Homo sapiens: one gene and its partners. Changing the gene in region 4 together with the main gene of any one other region gives a genetic interaction. Each region holds a gene or a part of one and is shown on either strand. Other genes may lie near its edges.

The links. A genetic interaction does not mean that the proteins touch.
Region 1: changes in MAN1B1 (region 4) and TRAPPC11 together harm fitness less than expected from each alone (positive genetic interaction), as found in Homo sapiens cells (one large-scale study listed by BioGRID).
Region 2: changes in MAN1B1 (region 4) and IGF1R together harm fitness more than expected from each alone (negative genetic interaction), as found in Homo sapiens cells (one large-scale study listed by BioGRID).
Region 3: changes in MAN1B1 (region 4) and SEC24C together harm fitness less than expected from each alone (positive genetic interaction), as found in Homo sapiens cells (one large-scale study listed by BioGRID).

The regions. Positions count from the first base shown.
Region 1 is NC_000004.12:183,693,793-183,697,292, reverse strand, and holds part of TRAPPC11 (trafficking protein particle complex subunit 11), read right to left. Parts: intron 3,377-3,500; coding exon 3,255-3,376; intron 2,690-3,254; coding exon 2,570-2,689; intron 1-2,569. UniProt on the Homo sapiens protein: Involved in endoplasmic reticulum to Golgi apparatus trafficking at a very early stage.
Region 2 is NC_000015.10:98,914,039-98,917,538, reverse strand, and holds part of IGF1R (insulin-like growth factor 1 receptor isoform 1 precursor), read right to left. Parts: intron 1,576-3,500; coding exon 1,408-1,575; intron 868-1,407; coding exon 663-867; intron 1-662. UniProt on the Homo sapiens protein: Receptor tyrosine kinase which mediates actions of insulin-like growth factor 1 (IGF1). Binds IGF1 with high affinity and IGF2 and insulin (INS) with a lower affinity. The activated IGF1R is involved in cell growth and survival control.
Region 3 is NC_000010.11:73,761,372-73,764,871, reverse strand, and holds part of SEC24C (protein transport protein Sec24C), read right to left. Parts: intron 2,775-3,500; coding exon of another isoform or gene 2,706-2,774; intron 1,383-2,705; coding exon 1,271-1,382; intron 1,017-1,270; coding exon 889-1,016; intron 1-888. UniProt on the Homo sapiens protein: Component of the coat protein complex II (COPII) which promotes the formation of transport vesicles from the endoplasmic reticulum (ER).
Region 4 is NC_000009.12:137,093,485-137,096,984, forward strand, and holds part of MAN1B1 (endoplasmic reticulum mannosyl-oligosaccharide 1,2-alpha-mannosidase), read left to right. Parts: intron 1-860; exon of another isoform or gene 861-946; intron 947-2,752; coding exon 2,753-2,907; intron 2,908-3,500. UniProt on the Homo sapiens protein: Involved in glycoprotein quality control targeting of misfolded glycoproteins for degradation.

The DNA.
Region 1 (3,500 bases), on a different chromosome or scaffold from region 4:
GGCAACCAGGATGGAGGACAGTGGCACCATCACAGATCACTGCAGCCTCGAACACCTGGGCTCAAGTGATCCTCCTGAGCAGCTGGGACTACAGGAGCACACTACCACGCCCGGCTACCGTATTTTATGGTTTTAGAGATGGGGTCTTGCTATGTTGCTCAGGCTAGTCTTGAACTCCTAGCCTCAAGTGATCCTCTTGCCTCAGAACCCCAAAGTGCTGGTACTACAGGAGTGAACCACAGCACCTGGCTAAAGTGTTTTCTTATACATTATTTATCTCTGGATCTAATGAAGTGGGCAGGGCAGGCATCATCACCATTTTGCAGAGGAGGAATCAGACGTTCCACAAAGCTAGGGTCTTCCTTTTGTCTAAGTTCCTACTACACCTCAACTCAAAATGACTAATAAGAAAGATAATAATAATGTAATGTGACAGACACTGCTATCATCCGTATACATGTATTATGTAATGTTCATAATCACACAAGGAAACAAGTGCTATTATGATTGCCACTTTAAGATGAGGTCATGGAGCCTACACTCTTAACCAACATGCTACATCTCCTTTCTAAAAGAGTCTGTTAGAAAAACAATGGGGGGGTGGGCATGGTGGCTCACACCTGTAATCCCAGCTTTGGGAGGCTGAGGTGGACAAATTGCTTGAGCTCAGGAGTTCAAGACCAGCCTGAGCAACATGGCACAACCCTGTCTCTACCAAAAATATAAAAAATCTGCTGAGTATGGTGGTGCACACCTGTAGTCCCAGTTACTCGGGAGGCTGAGATGGGTGGATTGCTTGAACCCAGGAGTCGGAGGCTGCAGTGAACCAAGATCGTGCCACTACACTCCAAGCTGGGCAACACAGTGAGACCCCATGTCAAAATAAAAAAATAAAAGAAAGAAGAAAAAAAACCATGGGGTTATTTCATCTTTCAAAACAAATAACACAACCTCTTGGTAAGAAACCTTTAAAAAAGATCATACTGGTTAAAAGCTCAGGCTGTAATGCCAGACAGAGCTGAATTCTAATCCTGGCTCAATACATATTTACTAGCTCTGTGACCTTGAACCTAATGACGTGACCCTGGGAAAGTTATACAGGTTATCTGAAATGCTTGGGGCCAGAAGTGTCTCAGATTTTTTGGATTTTGGAGTATTTGGATTATACTTACTTGTTGAGCATTCCAAGTCCAAAATGCTCCTGGGAGCATTTCCTTTGAGTGTCATGCTGGCACTCAAAAAGTTTCCAAAAGATTTTGGAACGTTTTGGATTTTGAATTTTCAGATTTGGGATGCTCAACTCATGCAGTCTCTTTAAGTCCCAGTTTCATAATCCTCACAGGCTTGTTAGAAAAATCAAATGAGATAATACATATAATGTGCTGAGATTGGCACCCTTATCTCCTAAGCTACCATATAGGACTCTATGTATTATACCAGGCTATGAGAAATTTTCAACAGTACATTACATGCCTTCTTCTCTCCCGCTTGGGAAATACTAATAATTTTGAGATGGTTTTCTTTCCCAATGACTAGTAAATAGCCCACAGCCCAGACTCTGTGCAGTAACAAAACTACAAATCCCCAAATTGCTATAGGCCTTCTCCTCTGCTGGGCTGAGGACCCAATTCCTAAGAGAAAACTAAGACAACATTACTGTCAGGACCAAGAAGATACCAAATATCATAATGTTCTACTAACAAAAGAGAACATAAACATTATATACAGCACAATTGAATCTATTTAGAAACATGGCCTGTTAAAAATCTCTAGAAATAGAAAAGAGACCAATAAGAAACACAAAGAGTTAGCAGTTGCCTTCGAGTTGTGAACTGTAACCGTGATCGTTCCTATTTTCACTTTTATGTGCACTTACCGAAAACAATTTTTACCAATATTTTTTAATAACAGAAAAATGCCTTTCAAAGGGCGACCTCCTTTTCTCCAGAACCCTCTATATGTAAGTCAACTTACAGATTTTATCTCATGTGTGATTTGCTTGAGATCTCAATCCTATTGATCCTCTATACGAAAAGCCATATAGGCCGGGTCCAGTGGATCACGCCTGTAATCCCAGCACTTTGGGAGGCCAAGGTGGGCAGATCACCTGAGGTTGGGAGTTCAAGACCAGCCTGACCAACATGGAGAAACCCCGTATCTACTAAAAATACAAAAAATTAGCTGGGTGTGGTGGTGCATGCCTGTAATCCCAGCTACTCGGGAGGCTGAGGCAGGAGAATCGCTTGAACCCGGGAGGTGGAGGTCGCAGTGAGCCAAGATCGTGCCACTGCACTCCAGCCTGGGCGACAAGGGCAAAACTCCGCCTCAAAAAAAAAAAAAAAAAAAAGAAAAGCCATATAAGCTAATTTTCTGTTTAATGTTTGAGCAGTGAATGCCAGCCTAAACAAATCTCAATATAAGTGATTTTTTAAAAAGTTTAATTAAAATTTATAACAGACTATAAGCACCTAAACTGCTTATTTTATGCTTATTTTATAGGTAAACTAAAATAACACAAAATGGGAATACTCCACATATGATGCTTTATAAAGTAGCTATAAAAAAATACCTTGTGACACTTGCAAACAATTTCTTTTTCTTCAACGGTTGTATTTATCAGGTAAGAAACATATACAAGAAACATTCTGGAACCCACTGTTCCACAGCGAACATACAACATTTTTTCCAGCTGTAACAAAATAAATGTTGTAATTTAATTAGTATTACAGACATTTCTTCTTGATATATATTCTAGGATAATGTTCCCACCTTCTAGAGTTTATTTATACCAACTGGCTAAATTCTTTATCACTTTTACAGAATGTTACAATGTAACTCATCAATGCTCCCACTGTAGTAGAGTACTCTGATTACACTGTGGCCACAGTATAAGGGTGGGATCATTACTACTGCATCTTTTAGAAATTATTGTTCTTTAACTTCCAAAATATTTTTCTATCTAGTTTGGAAGCAGAAGTTGACTGAGAAGTTAACTGCACTAAGTTACAAACAATGGGTATTTTATTAGCCCACTAATTCATGTTAAGCATGTTTTCTAAATTCCCTTGTAGAAAAACTGCTTAAGACATTTTACACATTTACGTATGTAAAATGTGTATGAAATGTTCATTAGTTAAATCACTTTTTCAGTCCTAGAATATGCGTTAAAACGCTCTGAACTGTTAAAAACTCACTATATATTTAAAACTACAAACTAATTGATTTCCTCTTCAATCCCAGTTGACCAAGTTTACCTGTTCCCCTGGATGTAAGTCTCCAACAGGAATGTCAGTGAGTAAAGCCGGGTAGGATTCATCACACAGTTCTGTTCCATGAAGAGTCACGTGAGTCTTCTGAGTTAAATTGGCATCCTGTCCTAAAAGAGTTAATATTGGTTCTTCAAAACAAAGAATTCAAACATTATCCCAATAATCAATACTGTGTGAAGAGCACTATGCCATACCCTCTTGTAAACAAAAGTCCTAGAGTTGACATCACTG
Region 2 (3,500 bases), on a different chromosome or scaffold from region 4:
GTTTACTTTCCTCTGCTTTTGTCCCCACTCCCCAGAAACCAAGACCACAGCAGAGGAGCAGAGTCCCTGGGGCAGGGGCTGTGTTGCTTTGAAAGACAGAGTAACCACGGAATAAACAGCCAATGCAGGCTGTCGCCCTACACTGCTTCCCAAACTTACTTGTACAGGATGCCTGTGGCACCTGGCTATGTTTTGAAGTCAGGCCCTTTCCAGCACAGACTCTGACTTTTTTCCCTCTTGCTTCACTCCTCCTCTGTGAGGCTGAGAGAGGCAGTAAAGATAATTAGGAAGGGCAGAGATGGACCCAAATCCTGGCCTTTCCTCTCACCAGGCAGCAGCTGTCAATACTCTTTGAGTTTCCCCTCCCTGCCTCTACCACAGGGTGCCCACCTGCTCTCTGTGGGGGGTTGTGGCTGAGACAGCAGTACCTGTCACACCGGTGGCCCCAGCAACCCAAGCCCTGGTCCCTGTTCCCTTCAGGGCTGACTGGCTTCCGCAGGGACTCACTTCACCGAACCTGTCATCTTTTTCGGCTCCGTCTCAGTGGCTACTGTATTGTACCCCCCAGCTGCTGACTTACACACTACCTGGTGGGGAGAAAGGCAACAGAACCGGCCTGAGCAGTGGGTTTTGCCAACTGAAATTTCACATGAGCTGGGTACCTGGGCACGAAGATGGAGTTGTGCAGGAAATTCTCAAAGACTTTGCGGTATTCAGCCTCCTCCTTCTCGGCCTGCTTCTCGGCTTCAGTTTTGGGGCAGGCGCAGCAAGGCCCTTTCTCCCCACCACACACCTCAGTCTTGGGGTTCTCTGTGACCTCCTCAATGTCGATGGTGCCGTCGGCATACTTCCTGATGGGGATTTTGTCTTCTCGGAAAAGAAAAGCCAAAACAAGAGTGGGAATGAAAGCCGTTATACATGCTTGTAAGGAAAAATAATAGCTCTCAGTACCTTTAATCAAGAAGATAGCTGGTCTCGGCCAGATGTGGTGGCTCAAGGCTATAATCCCAGCACTTTGGGAGGCCGAGGCGGGCAAATCACCTGAGGTTAGGAGTTTCAGACCAGCCTGGGCAACATGGTGAAACCCCGTCTCTACTAAAAATACAAAAATTAGCTGGGCATGGTGGTGCATGCCTGTAATCCCAGCTACTCGGAATGCTGGGGAATGAGAAATGCTTGAACCTGGGAGGCAGAAATTGCAGTGAGCCATGATCGTGCCACTGCACTCCAGCCTGGGCAACAGAGTGAGACTCTGTCTCAAAAAAAAAAAAAAAAAACCAGAAGATAGCTGGTTTCCAATGGAGAACTACACTGTTGTCTGATACGTGTAATATTAGGGCTCAGGCACATTACAACCACAGGAATGAACGGTCACACCCTCCGTCCAGGCCGCTGCTGCACCCTTACCTTTGGAGCAGTAATTGTGCCGGTAAAGGTAGCCGTCCTGAGGCTGCCGCTGCCAGCGCACAATGTAGTAACTCAGGTTGCCGTTGGGCAGAGAGGGAGGGTTCCACTTCACGATTAACTGAGAAGAGGAGTTCGATGCTGAAAGAACGTCCAAGGGAATGGAAGGAACTGGAGAGGGGAACAAAGAACATTCTAGAAAATGAAATGAACTTAAGAGTCAGGCTATCAGATACTCTGGCAAGCCAACAGGAAACTGCCAGTTTGACCTGGATAAGAAAATAACAATGAACAATGAAATACAAAGTGAAAAGTGAACCTTATTTTGAAATAGTACTACTATAAATGCCAACATTTCCCTTTATAATCTATTTCCTCCGGTAATCTCTGTGAAAACAAACATTACTGAGTTGTAAATGGAAAAAGGCTGCGGGGGCACAAGCAGGGTTAGAAGAGACAATGTGAAAATCTACAGCTAATTCAAACACCTGGTATTTCTCATTTATTACAACTGCCATTCTCCACAGTGCTGCACTCCGGCAATTTCGACAACTGGTAAAACAGGCTGACTTGGATTTCATCTGAGATTTTGAATCTCTGATAAAAATGTCATGAAGCCAAATGGAAAGAGGAAGTGGAAAGGGGCCTGGAGAGTCTGTGTGTGTGAAGGAGTGTGCATGCCCATGTCACAGCTGTGTGTAAGAGGGATGGGGGAGAGGCAATGCAAAGAACACGGAAGTCCACCATTTCCACAGGCATCCTTCAGTACAATGACTGAGGCATGACTCTGAAAAGCAGTTTAGAACTGCAAACGCATGGAAGCCTCATTTTGAGCAAAGGACTCTGTCACCAGCAGAATGAATGCCGATTATAGGCAAAGCATAGTTATCTGATCAAGCTTTACTTATGCTGACCCCTGAACTGAAACCCAGAGCTGAAGTGTGCATAAAGATCAAATGCATCCCAGAACCACTGAAATCTTGTCCTTATTGGGTCACAAAAAAGCATCAATGTTGATGGTTTTTCAAAGCACAGGAGACACCTTCACTGGATATCACTTAAGCAATATGTTTGCCTAAGCCATTTTTAAAACTTGAAAAGGGCGGACAGCTTGAGGGTGCTCCAGGTTATACGATACACACAAGGTTCTGAACATCTTTAAGGGATGATACTTTGGAAAAAGGTTATGACTAATACTGGCGTTTTCAGAGAAAACACAACCACTTGATGCTCAGCCACTTTAGGGTTTCCAAAAATAAGTACTTCAAAAACAAACAGCTCATTCCTAGATACATTCTTACGATAGGTGTCACCAAACAGCAGAGGCAGAGGACCAAGTTCTCGTCTGTCTCCGCTGCGTGTAAGGACAGAGGACAAAACGTAGTGAACTGACTCATTGGTACAGTGCCTGGTTTCCATCTTTGTGGAAAGGAAACAGGTTTCTTGAGAATCTGTCACAATAAGCAGATATTCCTATGTTTCCCAAACACTACAGTGAATTGCTGGCCAGGGGTTACTTCCAAATTTTAAGATGAAAAACTTCTTCTGTTGCACTGAACCTCTGCTACACCAACCCACACGCAGGATCAGAAGCCTGTGCCAATTTTGTTTCAATAAGCACTTTACCCAGTGACATGACTGTGGCCACTTACAGGGTCATGGAGATGGGGTAGGAGTGGAGGAAGGAGCAGGCGTGCACAGCAAAAGGTTTTCCCCACCAGCATTTTCTTCTCACCCTCCTCTCTGCCATTTAAACTGATTTTGTGCTCGCTTATGGGTATTTAAAAACACCTTACCCACTAAAATAATGGCTATTATCAAAGAATGTTTATCAGTGCTATAGAGTGAATGCCTGTGTCCCCTACCAAAACTCACATGTCAAAATCCTAACCCCTAAGGGGATGGAATTAGGAGGCATGGCCTTTGGGAGGTGATTGGGTCATGGGAGTGAAGCCCTCATGAATGGAATCCAGGCCCTTCTATGAGAGGCCCCGGAGAGTGCTCCCGCATCCCTGCCACCATGCAAGGACACAATGAAAAGACAGCCATCTATGAGCCAGGGAGTGGGCCCTCACCAGACACCAAATCTGCCAGCG
Region 3 (3,500 bases), on a different chromosome or scaffold from region 4:
GCTTCTAGTAACAGAGAACCCTATCGTAAGATAAGCAAGGCTGAATATGAGTATCCTACCAAGGCCTGGTGGAGCAGCTGCCTGGCTCGCTCTCTTCATGCTGGTATCAGGTACTGGGGTGACAGATCAGGTCCCAAAACAGGTGACAGAAGGATCACTGGATCCTAATCTACCTTTTCTCTTATATGCTGTTCTAACAGCACTAACCTGGGATGACAGGACAGTCAGGAAAACATGGAATGATGTCCTTCTCATCATCTGGAGATGACCATGATACGAGAGGTTCCTACATTCAGCTGTCTTCTCCCCTACAATTTGGCCCTACCTCTTGTTTTTTTTTTTTTTTTTGAGACAGAGTCTCGCTCTGTTGCCCAGGCTGGAGTGCAGTGGTGCAATCTCGCCTCACTGCAAGCTCTGCCTCCCGGGTTCACGCCATTCTCCTGCCTCAGTCTCCCAAGTAGCTGGGACTACAGGCGCCCGCCACCACGCCCGGCTAATTTTTTGTATTTTTCATAGAGACGGGGTTTCACCGTGTTAGCCAGGATGGTCTTGATCTCCTGTCCTCGTGATCCACCCGCCTCAGCCTCCCAAAGTGCTGGGATTACAGGCGTGAGCCACTGCGCCTGGCCTGGCCCTACCTCTTTTCATCCTGCTTGTTTCCTCTAGAGACTCTGTTCCTTCTCAGCAATGTCTTGGGCTTTTGCTCTCATCCCTACCATCCCCTCTCCAGGCATGGGCCCTGGGATAGAAAGCCACTAAAGACAGTCTCCTCTCCTGCCTAACTAAAATATCTTCCATTGTGAAGCTGGAATCACATCCAGGAAGACGCTTTAGACCCCTCTCTACCTCCCTCCCTTTCATTACACTCTAGCCCCTTCCCTGACTCACCTCCTCTGGGGGCAGCCTTGCCAGCGGTTTGATGACTGCTGCCAGGGGCACCTGAGCCTGCTTAGCCATGTCAGATGTGCAAGGGATATTATAGGATGTACATCGGATGTATCGGGGACTTGCATTCCCTGAAGAAGGAGGCAGAAGACCCGAGTCAGATCACAGAATCCTTCCAGACACCAGCTCTCCATTGGTGATCCACACCATCAACTCCACAAAGCTAGAGGTGATGGTGGCTTTTTCCCCCAGAGGGACTAGAGGGAACTTGTCTCTGGTTAAAAACTAAAAAAAAAAAAAAAAAAAAAAAAAAAAAAAAGCCCCAACCATAAGCTGATAATCTTGAAGAAAAAGCCCCTGTGGGAGGAGCTAATTCCATTCTCACCTTGGTCTTTCACCAGGAAGTTGGTAGTGACTAAGGGTGGCACCTGGCCCCGTACTCCAGTAACAAATGGCTCTGTACCCCGGTTGTTCCTGTCATCTTCAATGACCTGAATCTGCAGAGAAGTGCAATGAATGAGGTGACAGAAGAAAAAGGAAGTGTGAGGTCCCAGAGTGCCAAGAGTGAAAAAGGCTAGAGCTGTAACACAAAAACTAAAAATTTGCCAAGGAACACCTCATACACCAGGCCTGTTCTCCTTCTGGAGATCATATAAAATGCTGTAATGCCAATCTTACACTCTACAGCAGCCAATCTTTCACTCCCAGCAGCCTGCTGGGCAGGCAACATGAGAATGGGCTTCTTTATGAATTGCCCCCTACCCCCCATCAATGGTGAACACCCTCTCATTCCTCCCATTCCAGGAAAAGCCCCAGCTCTGATCACAAACCTTCAAACATGATTAGATTCCATTCCCCTCCCCCATCATGCCTTCCCCGATCCTCTCCCCAAGACACATTCTGAGTCAGAGCAGGAAAACAGACAACAGTAACCACGTAAAAATGAATCTACCTGGAATGACTCTACACTCAATGAAATTACAAGGGACAGGGTGAGGAGAGATTTAAACAGCCAGAAATGATCAAGTAAGGTGAGGAAGCAGATGCTGCCTTACTTTCAGGTAAGCATCAATGTGTATATATAGGAGGAGAGGAGAAGTACCCAATCCTTATAGCTCAATCCTCAGTCCTCCACATTTTGACAGACTCAGCAAAGGAAAATAAAGGACCTGCAAAGCTGGTATTCAGACCTTTATGCAGGCTAATGACCTTTGGTCAGTTACTTCAAGATGGGTTTGGAAAACCAGAAAAAGCAAAGGGCAAATAAGACTCTATCCCATAGCAGAAAGGTTGAAGCTTAGAAATATATCAGAGTCAAAAAGACTCTTCAGATGAGAAAGCACCCACACTTTCCCAAACCAGCAGTCCCTTCTCCTGTAAGAAATGCCAGTTTGGGATACTATGAATCTGTACATTCCTACTCCAATATTTCTCCACAACAGGCTACAGACAAATCAAATCCAAAGTGGAATGATCTACCGTTCAACTTTGTCCTCTTCCATCATACATCACCTGCAGGCTCCTGGAGGTGCCAGCAGAACTAAAGCCAAAGCTTGACATGCCACCTGACCCCACCCTTAGAGCCTGACCTTCCACCACCCCATACTCAAGGCAAACAGCTTGCTACCTCTTCATTACCTGGTGACTTGAGGCATGCATATCCTTTTATCTTGTATAAGTGAGTATCTAGAAGGGCTAGGCTAAAGGAAGAGAATGGGGAGGAATGGACATGGTAGATGAGGTGAAGATGAGGTCACAGGCATGCATGGATGGCACTAACACAGGAATGACATGCACAAACACCCACCCCCTGCACTTACTGGACTAGGAATGGCATCGGGGTCTATTCTGTGCCTGGTTTTCTGCTGAGGAGGCAGCTCACTGAGTTGCTTTTAGTGTTTTAATAATAAATGCAGCAGGGGAATACAAGGAGGGAGACAAAAGAACAAGAGGCAGATGTTACTTCTCTCAACCCTGTTGAGTTAGACATGAACAGCTGGAGCCCAGCTCATATTGCTGAAATCAAGCCCCCTCTAGATATGAAATTCCAAGTCTTTCTGGCCCAACACAGAGGCTTTAATGGCTCAGACTATGATGTAGAAAGATAAGGAAAGGGGCAAACAGGAGGCAAGCAGGAGTTACACAGGGAGGGGCTGAGGCTGAATGGAAGAAACCTTAAGGAAGAAGAAGAGGAGTGTTCCCCCTAAAAGGCCAAACCTCCCATTCTAAGGACTATCTTATGCTGAAAGAAGCCTCCCTTCATGTCCAACCAGACTCTCCTTCTCACTGAAGGAGGGGGAAGGAAGGAGAGGCTGCTTAATCCTCTTGAGTTCTCCTTGGCCAACAGGCTCCCTCACTGTGTTGGTTACCCAAAGGAGGAAGAGGGACGAGAACAGAATGGAATATGACAATGGCTAAGCATGGCAAGGTAACTGACATAGCAAATGTTACAGGTGGAACTATAAAGTGGCCCCTACTTGGCAGTACAGTCCTAGTCTCTATTCTGAGTCTGATAAGGAGGGCCTGAGGATTCTGATGGCTCCAAGGGTGCAATTCACCCTCTTCCTGAAAAAAGCAGCTCTCCAGTGGGACTTTACATACACACTGCCCTCATA
Region 4 (3,500 bases):
AAGTACAACACTCAAGGTATTTGAAAAGACCTAAATAAGTAGACATTTTATTCTTCTGCTGTGAAGATTTAAGCAGTGGCTCACGCCTGTAATCCCAACACTTTGGGAGGCTGAAGCGGGTGGATCACAAGGTCAGGAGATTGAGACCATCCTGGCTAACACAGTGAAACCCCGTCTCTACTAAAAATACAAAAACAAAATTAGCCGGGCGTGGTGGCAGGCACCTATAGTCCCAGCTACTCGGGAGGCTGAGGCAGGAGAATGGCGTGAACCTGGGAGGCGGAGGTTGCAGTGAGCCGAGATCGCGCCACTGCACTCCAGCCTGGGCGACAGAGCAAGACTCTGTCTCAAAAAAAAGAGAAAAGATTTAAGTTCTCCCTAAATTCATCTGTAAATCCATTGACTCCCTATCAAAATTCCAACCTCTGTTTTTAAAGATGATTTTAAAATTCATATGGAAAGAAAATTTGGGAGTAAAACTCAGATGAACTTCCCTACAAGATCATAAAACTGTGATCATTGAACCCATGGTGATTTTTTTTTTTTTTGAGACAGAGTCTCACTCTGTTGCCCAGGCTGGAGTGCAGTGGCACAATCTCCACTCACTGCAACCTCCACGTCTCGGGTTCAAGTGATTCTCCTGCCTCAGCCTCCCAAGTAGCTGGGATTACAGGGATGTGCCACCACGCCCGGCTAACTTTTTGATTTTTTGTAGAGGTGGGGTCTCACTTTGTTACCCAGGCTGGTCTGGAACTCCTGGGCTCAGGTGATCCTCCTGCCTCGGCCTCCCAAAGTGCTAGGATTACAGATGTGAGCCACTGCACCTGACCCTCGTAACGGTGATTTTTAAGACTAGGTGATCTTAGTGACATAATTCTAATAGTTTGTTCCGACCTTCCACTGTGGACTCAATAGCAGGGAGATGAAGAGGACAGTGATTGCATGACCTGGTGGAGAAGAGACTAGAGAAACACAGTGGAACTAGTGGCTCACATCTGTCATCCCAGCACTTTGAGAGGCCGAGGCAGGCAGATTGCTTGAATGCAGGAGTTCGAGACCAGCCTGAGCAACATAGTGAGACCCCATCTCTATTAAAAAAAAAAACAGGCTGGGGCCAGGCATAGTGGCTCATGCCTGTAATCCCAGCGCTTTGGGAGGCTGAGACGGGTGGATTGCTTGAGACCAGGAGTTCAAAACCAGCCTGGCCAACATGGTGAAATCCTGTCTCTACTAACAATACAAAAAATTAACCTGGAGTGGTGGCGGGCGCCTGTAATCCCAGCTACTCAGGAGTCTGAGGCAGGAGAATCACTTGAACCCAGGAGGCAGAGGTTGCAGTGAGCCAAGATCACGCCACTGCACTCCTGCCTGGGCAACAAGAGTAAAACTCTGTCTCAAAAAACAAACAAACAAAAAAAACAGGCTGGGCATGGTGGCTCATGCCTGTAATCCCAGCACTTTGGGAGGCTGAGGTGGGTAGATCACCTGAGGTCAGGAGTTCGAGACCAGCCTGGCAAACATGGTAAAACCCCATTTCTACTAAAGATACAAAAATTAGCCAGGTGTGGTGACACGCGCCTGTAATCCCAGCTACTTGGGAGGCTGAGGCAGGAGAATCGTTTGAACCCAGGAGGTGGAGGTTGCAGTGAGCCAAGATTGCACCATTGCACTCCGGCCTGGGTGACAAAACAAGACTCTGACTGGGATTACAGGCGTGCGCCACCACGCCTGGCTAATTGTTCGTAATTTTAGTAGAGATGGTGTTTCACCATGTTGCCCAGGTTGGTCTTGAACTCCTGACCTCAGGTGATCCACCTGCCTCCCAAAGTGCTGGGATTACAGACGTGAGCCACCGTGCCCAGCCATAAGTAAGCATTCTTTCCTTTTTTAAAAAAAAAAAAAGTGGAGCAATCTAAATATCCATCAGTAAAGAAGTACAAAATTATGGCTTGTGCCGGGCATGTTGGCTGCAACCTGTCATCCCAGCACTTTGGGAAGCCAAGGCAGGAGGAATTCGTGAGGCCAGGAGTTTAAGACCAGCCTGGGCAACATAAGGAGACCCTGTCTCTATAGTAATAATAATAATAAAAATTAAGGTTTGGTAATACCACAGAAAACTGAGGCCATAGGAGAGAATGGATTTGCCTCTAGACTCACGTAGGAGGACCTAAGCCTCAGTCCGTGACACGGTCTGCAGCTTTCCCACGCTCCTGTTCACGTGGGGAAGGGAGCAGAGGACGGGGCTCTGTGCCTGCAGGTGTGGAAACAGGGAACAGGGTGGTGGGGGCTGGCTAGAAGGCCCGCATCACACAGCAGGGGGCGCCTGGCAAGGGGAACCCAGCTCCATATGTCATCGGAAGCTTTGTGCTTTGTAGTGAGGATGTGGGTGCCTGCCTCACTTTGCAGATGACTGTGCGGGAGGCCTGGGGACCCAGAGGTGTTGCTGGAGCTGGTGTTTACTGCAGCCCTTTGTTATTAACGCTTTAGGACCTGTGAGAGTTTGGAAATATTCCCACCGTGGGAGGGGCTTAAGCGTTTTGTCTGGGGCCGTTTAGCCAGTCGGCAGTGTCCCCAGGCTCCTAAGGAGCTGTCTTCTGAAGCTGCCTGTCGTATTGAAAAACGAAAGTAATTTAGTCAGAGGTCAGAAGCTCAGTCTGTGAGGTGTGGGCTGCACCTGAGGGCGTCCCATAGAGGGAAAGAAGGGCAGCTCGCAGACACCCCGTGATTTCCTGTGTGACCAATTTCTCTACAGAAGACACAAAGACACATCCAGCGGGGACCACCTCACCTGCAGATTAGACCCCCAAGCCAAGACCTGAAGGATGGGACCCAGGAGGAGGCCACAAAAAGGCAAGAAGCCCCTGTGGATCCCCGCCCGGAAGGAGATCCGCAGAGGACAGTCATCAGGTACAGAGCGCAGGGCAGGCTGCACGCCGCCGCTCAGGGCTTGATGTTCCGAAAAACAAGATTGCGGAAACGCATTGTGTCTGAGATCTATTTTCCTTTGAAACTGACAGTGTATGCTCTGTAATCTGTCCTCATTAACCTTAGATTACAGAATCGAATTTTTAAAACTGGAGGTCAGAGCTAAATTAGGTCCCCGATAATGTCCTCATGGTATGCAGTAACATTTCAGAATGTTTTGTGTGCGTGTGAAGGGTGCACAGGTGCGTGGGGATGGGGAGCCAGGCTCAGAGGTGGACGCTGGCTGCCTGGGCCACCTCCTTTCCCGAGCCCCATCTGGTCGAGCAGAGAGCAGAGGGAGAGGGAGTTGCCCGGTGCCCAGGCTCCCAGAGTGCTGTCCTCTGCCCGGTTCGTCAAGTCCAGGTAGTGGATCCCAGTGGAGCTTCGGTGCTGGAGGCGTCTCTGCCTCGTTTCCGGCTCCATGTTACGCTCTTAGAAACGGAGTTGATTGTGGTTGAGGCGGAAGGAAGGGTTCCCCGCAGACGTCCTCTCTCTTCTACAAAGTGTGGGCAGAGCCAGGGCCAGTGAGGGCTGCT